Linked DNA regions of Homo sapiens: regions 1 and 2 are each reported to be linked to region 3. The links are microRNA targets in miRTarBase. Many come from high-throughput screens and were not tested one by one. Region 3 holds a microRNA gene; each other region holds the end of a gene's coding sequence.

Region 1 (3,351 bases), not on the chromosome of region 3:
TTTATTTTTTTTGAGATGGAGTCTAGCTTTGTTGCCCAGGCTGGAGTGCAGTGGCATGGTCTCGGCTCACTGCAACCTCCGCCTCCCAGGTTCAAGCAATTCTCCTGCTTCAGACTCTCAAGTAGCTGGGATTACAGGCACCTGCCACCACGCCCGGCTAATTTTTGTATTTTTAGTAGAGATGGGGTTTCACCATGTTGGTCCTGATCTTGAACTCCTGACCTCAAGTGATCTGCCCACCTTGGCCTCCCAAAGTGCTGGGATTATAGGCGTGAGCCACGCGCCAGGCCGCTTTGCCATTTTAGCAGGCTTACCAGGCTTAACCACATATTGTGCGTGTGTGTGTGTAAACACTTATGTATATGTGTTTGTGTGTATACACAGACACACACACATATACATAAATGCATAATAAAGTACCTAGTACAATGGGTGGCACACGCTGGCACTTGATGACTGTGTTTTCTTCCTCACTCTTGTTTCCCAAGGTGGCATGTCACAAACAGCTTTTAGGCTGCTCAGACACAGTTCTTTCATTCCATCAGATGCCACTGAAGATTCGCCCTCCTGATTATTAATTATAATAATTCACTTCAGAACCCAGGGATTTTATGGAACATCAACTAGGTGACAGGCAACACATTTGAGGCAGAGATGATTATTTAGCTGATGAAAAGCCACTACCAACAGAAAGATTACAACCTCTGGAGTAGTTATTGCTACCTTTGAAAAGGTCAAAATCCGAAAAGATCCCAGTGATTCCTAACGGCAATTTCTACTTGAATCTATTCAAATAAAAATGGAGGTTTTAATTAATTAGGCTGCAGGCTTTGCCCAATAGTTCACATAGGTTGTATTTCAGTTTAAGTGCAGAACCAACAAAACAAAATATCCTTTGGGTGTTTAGCAAACTAAAGGAAATTGTACCTAATGTTTTGTGTATTTCTTTTAAATCAAAACCCTAAGATCACTACAGGAAACCACACCAGAACGTTATGTGATATCAAGTCATACACTGATGATTAAATATTACCTGTTATTTATATACAGATGGAGAAATGCCGAAACTAATCTCTATTCAGGAAAGGTCAACTAGTAAACAAACTTATAAATGCACAGTGACTAAAAAGGGAATAACATTAAATCTTAAGGCAGCATTGGTTGAGTCTTCTCTGGTAAAGGAAGTATTACATATGTCAATGACTAGTGTATGATTTTTTAAGAAACCAATTAATTAAAATAAATACTAAAATAATGTTTTCAAAAAGAAAGAGGACTGATTTTAAGACTTCTACAAAATGAATTTGTATTAGAGTTTTAATTTGGGATTAGAAAGCATATTAGGAGCATAATGGAATAAAGTTACACAAGATTTTCCTCAAATGCAAAGTCAAGGTCCCTAGAAATTATTGTTACTCTTAATGAGCACTCTTTGAGCTCCTTTTTCACTTGTTGTTGCACTCAGAGTAGTTATTAGAAAATTCTGCTGATTTTTAAATAATGTGGTCAGGTTGCATTTTACCTGAGTGAAATGGTTTCAAACTGCATTACCTACCATTATGCGCTAATTTTATAACTACATCCTTAATGCTGAGTTTGCTTACCTGGTGGGGTGCCTAAATCATCGTGTCCCAAGTATTGGTGCCATCCTAAAATGATGACATGTAATTGTGGCTGAAAAGTCATACATTGACAAAAATATTCCAAATCTCTTTAATAAAGAAAGTTTGGGGATCTGTGTTTTTTGCAGCTTGTTTGGTTAGCTTTTCTTGGCTAAGACTAAAAATTACCTTTAGTTGTTTTATAGATCCAGTGGTATATGCTGACCGAATAATGGGATGACACGAAGAACAGACAGAAACCTCAAAAAATGTTCCAATCAAAGGAGCTCTCACATGGTGCTGAGAAATAAAACATAGGCACTTCTGCTTCAGGAGGTTTTCACATTTTGATCACAGATTGGCTTTTCCAAGCCATTTTCCTTCACTACTAGAAATTCCCTCATGGTACAAACTGTCTAGTTCACTAGAAGCCTTGTTCTCACAGACACCCTTCTGGTGCGTGAATCTTTTATCATAAAATTCTCTCCATTGACAGCCGAGATGGGGTTCCTACCGCTGCTGGGAGCCGTGGGAGCAGCCCAAGTCCTTGTCAGATGACCAAGTGTCGCTTGAGGATACTCCCCGACACAAGGCTGCCTGCCCTCCAGAACCACCTTATCCACCAACAGAAAAAAAAGGCGCATCAAGCGCAATCTGTCTCCTGGAAATAGGGAACGTGTCTGCCTCTCTCTAGTTTCTAATTGTGAGTGTAATTCAACAAAGTGTACAGTCTTCCTAACGTTCTAAAGCTACTGCGCTACTGGGATTTTTTTTTTAAACGACTACTTAACAGTTTCCTTTTTTGTTTGTTTGTTTTGAGAAAACCTGTGCTAGAAAGGCACTAGAGAAAATGAATTTCCTCACTCTTGTATGTAACAATTATACATTGTGTTAGATTCTAAAAGCTAACGAAGTTGACGCACATTTGGATAAACCATCCGAATGATTTAGACTCATCTAGTTTCATTTTAAAAAGCAAACCCCAAGTCAAAGGGAGGGCAGGCCACACCAGGGGAGAGCCGCCAGACCGGGAGGTCACACCTGGTCAGCCCCTGCCTCCAAGGAGCTCCAGCTGCTCCAACCCTGGCTGGCCCGAGCAGGTGACAGGGCAGTGGCCGGGCCCCAGTGGGGGCTCACTGGCAGCAGCTGTGGGAGCCAAGCCTCCGGGAGACCTGAGTGAACGAGACAAAGGTGAAGTTCTCACAGTTTTCCAGCTTGACCTTCTTGGCTAAGTTTGGGACAATTCCCCGAAGAGAGCGCAGCCCCATCCTCTGCTCCTCATACCACACGCTGCCCATGTCTGTGGCCTCCTTCCTGGCAGTCAGGTAGAAGGGGGACTTGGCCTCCATTTGGGTGGGCGGCCGGTGGATGTACATGTACTTGTAGAGGAGGCAGTAAGGGCACTGTTTGTGTCCCCGGGAATGCTCATGGTAGATCTTCCCGTGACACACTCTGGTGGAGCCGCTCCGACTCTCCCGCTTGACGCTGTCCGTCCGGGCAAAGTAGGGCTGGTTTTGGGGGTCTTTGAGCAGCTCGATGTCACCATACATCAGATCCGCATGCTCCTGCAGCGTCCGCATGTTCAGGTACTGGCTGTTGTACTTGACCACAGTGGACAGGAGAGTGATAGGGCTGTCATCCCCCAGACACCCTGCCTGCCACATCTCCTCCTCGTCAGAAAGGGAGAAGTAGACGATGTTGCGAGAACGCGCGCCCGACATGCCTGCCTTACTCAGCACCCACAGCTTCT
Region 2 (3,000 bases), not on the chromosome of region 3:
AGATTCTGGATTCCCAGTTGTTAGGCAGGGATCTATGGATTTAGTGAAGATGTAGACCAGTGGTGCCGGGAGAGGCTGCCATGCACAGCCTGTCAACGCTGCCCACCGGGGGCGGGGGGATGGGGGGTGCCCACAGACCATCTCCCTGGGACTGAAGCCCATGACAGAAGTAGATCATGCTGTCTCTTCTCTATGTGAGTAGACCCACGAGTCTCATGGCCCCTTCCAGTATCCATGGAACAGCAACAGACTAAATTACTTGCTTGTAAGTAGGGCAACATCAAACCCCAGACCCAGCAGGTACTTTTGTAAGAAAACATTTTTAAAATGACAGAATAAGAAAATGAATAAAGCTACCACAAAAGAAAGAAAGTGAATAAAGTCACCAATAAGAAAATGAATCAAGTTACGTTGTTCCACCCAGTGCCTCTGTGAGTCATCTTTCTTGGTGACCCCAACACCTACAAACCATGCAGTGGGTTGACATCCCGGGACTGCTGCTCCTGGTGGGAGGCAACTGACGTCACTTGCTTGACAACGAGACTGACCTTTTCTTCCACCACGCCTTCATCTCTCCTCTCCAAATACTGACTTTTTTTCCACTATATTTGTAAAAGTTATGTGATTGTATGACTACAGCTCTTCTGTGGTACCTACAGGTTGATACAAATCATTAAAAATCAAAACATCAACGTATCTAAGAACCAAATGGTGCATGTGACTCCCCGGAGAAGGATATATATGCCATGTTGCCACTTGAAGGAGAATCTTCCAGGCATCAAATCCCGTGGATTCTCTTATTTTCTTTCACATTCCCTCTGCTTTTCCTCACAGTCGGCTACCACGCTCTGAGGAGCCCGTGCCATCTCCATTTCCCCCATCCCTTTTTCACTTTGCCTCACACCAGTCAAATCCAAATATCCGAGAGTCAGACACTGGGAGACTGTCTGCTTCTTGGCAACTCCCAGGTGGTTATGATACGCTTCCCGGACCGCAACACTGACCTACGGAACTGAAATGATGAATTCATGTCAGAAGAAATAGGATTTGGGGAAGAATTCATTACCTGGACCATTTTCAGCAGCTGGAATAAAAAGTACTTAACAACAACAACAAAAATCACACACAAAGTCCAAAAAGTGTTTTGAAAAAGTGCTTTGAGAATTTACTGTACAGTTTTTTTAAACAATTTATTTATATGTTGGCTTCTACATGCTCTTACATTCGTGTAAAACATTTATACATATTCTTTACAATTTGTACATATATTAAATGGCTATAGCATAAACATTGTTCTATGGGATTTTATAGAAGAAAAATCAAGTGGGGAGAATTACTTATGAAACATTAACAAAAACCCGTGATATTGAAGAACAAGATGTTCTCATATTCATTTGATTTCATCTACTTATTTTTGGTGTCATTTTATTGATGCTGGCCCAGACTTTCCATTTCCCGTAATTATTAGGTCAGAAAAATGAAAGCAGCGGGAGGGAACGCGGTAAGGCACCTGTGGGAGACGGGAGCGCTCCTCCGCAGGGGTGAGACGGTGGCTGCCAGTGTTGAGTTCGAGCTGACGGTGTGCCAAGGTCCTGTTTTGCTTTATGCCGTTAAGTGAAGCGCTGGAAGTGCTGGTGCTCAGAAACACCCTGTGTGAAGTTTCGGATGTAGTCGGGAAGGGCGCTGGTCTGTTCTTTCTCTCCAACCTCAGAGCGCCGGGGACTCTGTACACTGCTGAGGCTGCAGCCCTTCTCAGTCCCTACACTTTTCCATCTAATGGGGAGCTAACCTGTGCTTTTTCTCTTTGCTGATGACACCAACTGGCCATGAACCCGCCACCCAAGCCAAGCAGTGTGCCGTGGCCACAGCAGCGCTTCTCATCACGGTGGATGAGGAGCCAAAGAATAAGAAAGGGCCAGAGACGCCGGGGTGCTGGGTGCCCTCCTTCTCCCAGGCCCTCCCGAACACAGGCCTCCGCACAGCCACTCACCCGTTGGACCAAAGCCACAAAATTCTCTACAAAGTCCCTCAATTCTTCTAATGTATTCTTCATGGCATAAAACATGCCTTAACCAAGATTAGGAAGGAAGTGCAAAGAGAGAAAGCACTGGTCCTCACATAAGAGCAGCACATCAGAAATGTCGCTGAGGACATGGGTGGCCAGGGGTATCTGCTCATCTGCCAGGCTGTGGGGTCCCCCTGGAGGGACATGGGATGGCCCACCTGCCACACACCACGATGGCACTAGCAGCCCCAGGGGCCCCCAGCGTCCTCCCTCTTGAAGTGTAAGCACTTGAGCTGTAACTGTGGCAGTGAAAGGCGTAACGACTTCCCTCAATGACAGGAGCCCCAGAGGACTGAAAGGAGTTATAAAAATATACAAACATAGATATTTTTTATTCTGGCATAGTTCATGTTTTTAAGAAAGTAATTAGTAATTAATTATCTGACACTGGGTAAGAACTGGAAGATTGTGGGAGACTTATAAATTATATAAGACTTATAATTTATAAGACATATAAATTATGACTCTATGTAAAATATCAGTGGGGAGAAACCCCTCATTTTCCATTGAAAATTCTGGTAACTTTTAAGTACTTTCCAAAAATAGAGACAATTTCCACTGGTTTAAATAATGGATGCGGAAATGAACAAAAGACCATCCCTAAATAACTGACGCATTTAGGGTGGCTAATAAAATAAATGCAGTTTTTTGCAACTCTTTCTTTTTGGTTTTGTTTCCTTTTTTTTCTGAATAATAGGGGAAAAAAAGTTTTGAATTGCATTGCCCCAAGTCAGGAGAAAGCACGCGGCATTCTCTTCAAGGCCCGTTCTGTCCTACATCACTGGAAAGCGGCTGAGGGCCTGCCTCAGCTTTTCTGCAATCTGACAAGAAAGCAAAACAAAACAACGTTGAGATATCACTCCCATTACGACCTCACAGTGTTCTTTATTCACAACTCCAACAAGTTAAACATGACACAAATTCCAATTCTTTAA
Region 3 (3,000 bases):
AAAATATAAGCAGGTGGAGTTTCAGGGATTGACGACAAGGCTTTTCAGCTGATGACCCAGGTCCCACAAAGATAAAGCTCCTAAGGGGGCGTGGTCCCCTAAGGACGCGAACTTCAGACTTCTGGGCGGGGAGGCTTTCTGGACAGTCAGACGTGGATTACGGAGGGGGCGTGGCTTCGGAGGGGCGGAGCTTCAACAAATTCGAATCGTTCTTTGAAGAGCAGGGTTTTGCCCTTTTGGGAGATAGGCCTTTTGACAGGAGTTAGCCGAGGATCGTTGCTAGGAGGCGGAGTTTCGGAGAATGGAAGGAGTAACGAAGGGTTTCTCGTAGTAGGGCTTGGAACGTGTCGGGGGGTGGGGACTTCCAGAAAAACTGGGCGACAGGGTGGGGTCGGAGACAAAAAATAAAAATCAAGTCGGGGTTCGGGGGAGCCCCCTGAAGTTGGGAGGTGGGACTTCCGGGGAGAGGGGTCTCAGGGGCGGGACTTATAAATGAAGACCGGAAGTGGGGTCCCGGGAGAGGGGTTCCGGGGTGAAAGAGTGAGTCACCTAAGGAGAAAAAAGTCAAGACTCACCAGGGCCTCATGGAGTCTCCGCACCGCACCGCGGGCCGATTTGGTGCCGGATCACGCCACTGCCAGCTTAGGTTACCGCTCCAACTTTCTCCCCGGGCCCTGCCTCCCTGGAGAAACTTTATTACACTCACTTCCGGCCTCACTAACCCCTGACCCTCTACCTCAGGGTCCCTCCTTCACGCTTCCCACTTTCCCGAGTTAGCCAATGGCAGCGCGAGATCGCGCACAAAGGCAGTGGTGGCCAATAAGACGCCTACTTTTGACCCACGCTCGTTCTTGAGAAGCGTGAGAACTGCCCTCCAATAAGGATCCGAAGAGAAGTAAATCTAAGCCAATCGGAGGCTTGAAAGTAGAGGTGTCCCGCCTCGAGCCAAACGGACCAATAGGAAGTGCGGGCGGCGTGTTTGAAAGCGAGGCCAAAGTGGGTGGGAGCGCGTGCTGTTGGGAGTTGCTTGGAGGTTGGCGGCGCGGGGCTGAAGGCTAGCAAACCGAGCGATCATGTCGCACAAACAAATTTACTATTCGGACAAATACGACGACGAGGAGTTTGAGTATCGGTTAGTGCTGGCGCGGGAGCAATAGCGAGGGTCGTGAGCTTTGGCCGCTGAGGGCACAAGGAATTAGTAACAGGAACTGAGGCGATAGAATTGGCGCATGCGTACGAGGTGCGAACGGGCAATGGTGTGATATTGTGGAAGGCGTAAGGCGCATGCGCGGAGGTGGGAGGCGCTCGTAAAACAAAGTGGTTGCGAATTTGGAGTCGCCTCTCAGTAGAGAGGAGAGAGGGGTGGGCGTGGTTAGGGTACTGACCACCCTCACCCATGAGGCTTTCTGGATCATTCTCTGAACTTTATCGGGCAAACTTAACTTGCCTTGTAGAGACTGTTTCACAGTAATCTTGTCGAATCCAGTGGGAGAACGTAGCAAAAGCGGAGCTGGAAGTTTCCTGGCGTCCCTAACAGGAGAGTAGCGCTGAGAGAGTTGAATATTGCTTATTAACTCGTGAAAAAGACAAGGGGCGTGGTTGTCTGGCTTGTGTAAGGAAGGGGATCGCTTGGGACTGCAATGGAATAAAACTGGCTAGGAGCATTGAGAAAATACTTAATATGGGTCTAATAGATGCCCTTTAAATATCAAAGGGAACAGTTACGGAATACTTAACAGGTTTCAGGTGTTCTGCTAAAGTGCAAGGATAACACATGGTCTCTGCTGTTCACAAATTTAAAAATCTGTGGGTGGTACCGACAGACACCAGAAAGGTGACACACGCTATGCAAGGAGCCATTACAGGGTGTGATGGGAGCACACAAGACTTGCTAAGGAGAGGGAACTGGCGACCCGAAGGCTGCGGCTTCCTAGCTGTGAGCGGGGGTTGAGGTGGGGCTAGAAAGTCAGTCCCCTACTTTTGCTAACTCCAGGACGCTCCCCCATCCCACGCTTCGAGAACGCCCCCCGCCCCGCCACCGCCTTGGAGGCTGACCTCTTACTTTCGGTCGGTCTTCTTCCCTGGGCTTGGTTTGGGGGCGGGGGAGTGTCCTAAGGGCCAATTCAGCGTGATGTCTCTTTCACCACCATTGAAAACGAAACCAGTAGTAAACTACGCGTGTTTTCATTTATATGTCGGAGATAAAAACACAGGGACAGAAAGAGGGGAACAACAGACATTGGGGCCTGCTTGAGGGAGGAGGGTGGGAGGAGGTAGAGGTTCAGGAAAAAAAAAAACTGTCGGGTACTATGCTTAGTACCTGGGTGATGAAATAACCTGTACACCGAACCCCCGAGTCAGGATTTTACCTATATAACAAACCTGCACATGTACCCTTGAACATGAAACTTAAAATACTGAGAGGAAAAACGGAAGAGGGAATGTTGGGGAAAGCTTCCTAGAGGGCAGAGCCTGAGATGAGACTCTAAGAAAAAGGTATGTGGGAGGAAGCACCTCTTGACTGAAATTGTTTAGAAGACACTGGATAGCCATCTGCCAAGGATGGTGATGATGGAATCCTGGCACTGGATGTGGCATTCGGGCTTGATAAATTTTAAGTGCATAATCTAGATTGGGAATAAGGGAAGACACAGGATTCCACAAATGTTGGCATTATGCTAATCTGTATTAATTGTAATAATTAAGACCACTTCCTGGTTTGTATCTTGTCTCCTCAGTTGGAGAACATAAAATGAAAACTTGCTTTTCTTGTGTCTCTTCACCCAGCCTAGTTCAGGGCTTTGGGTCTTCCAGAGAACTCGATGTGCATTGACAAATACATAATCATCTTTATGCCAAGACGGCTCCAGACCCTCCTTTAATTAACTTTCTTTTCCTCAGCTGTTTTCCTCTACATCTGAACTAAACTAACTTAAAACTGTATGTGCTTATAAGAGATTTGTGGAGCTGGGAAGGAATCACCATTTCATCCCCTGGAAG

The links. Region 3 holds the annotated microRNA hsa-miR-4258 (CCCCGCCACCGCCUUGG, at 2,031-2,047, shown strand). A microRNA usually pairs through its seed, bases 2 to 8, with sites in the 3' UTR of a target mRNA and lowers its output. Matches are read on the target gene's strand: a 7mer-m8 pairs with bases 2 to 8, a 7mer-A1 pairs with bases 2 to 7 and ends in A, and an 8mer does both.
Region 1: the mRNA of KIAA1958 is a reported target of hsa-miR-4258. The part of its 3' UTR that is shown has no 7-base or 8-base seed match.
Region 2: miRTarBase lists SNX9 as a target of hsa-miR-4258. Seed matches in the 3' UTR shown: 7mer-m8 at 1,832-1,838.

What each region holds. Positions count from the first base shown.
Region 1 is chr9:112,659,453-112,662,803 of GRCh38, reverse strand. It overlaps KIAA1958, which reads right to left. Exons shown (of 4, transcript NM_133465.4): 4 at 1-3,351. The coding sequence ends at 2,735. Among named protein-coding and RNA genes, the nearest start is that of INIP, 57 kb to the left of the region's middle. RefSeq lists a silencer at 2,109-2,309.
Region 2 is chr6:157,942,677-157,945,676 of GRCh38, reverse strand. SNX9 (sorting nexin 9) reads right to left here. Exons shown (of 18, transcript NM_016224.5): 18 at 600-2,886. The coding sequence ends at 2,839. Among named protein-coding and RNA genes, the nearest start is that of SYNJ2, 38 kb to the left of the region's middle.
Region 3 is chr1:154,973,673-154,976,672 of GRCh38, forward strand. It overlaps MIR4258 (microRNA 4258), which reads left to right and starts at 2,021; the gene lies at 2,021-2,111. CKS1B (CDC28 protein kinase regulatory subunit 1B) reads left to right here and starts at 1,009. Exons shown (of 3, transcript NM_001826.3): 1 at 1,009-1,132. The coding sequence starts at 1,074. It also overlaps a transcript of SHC1 not described here. RefSeq lists enhancers at 505-654, 1,105-1,254, 1,355-1,414 and a silencer at 745-834.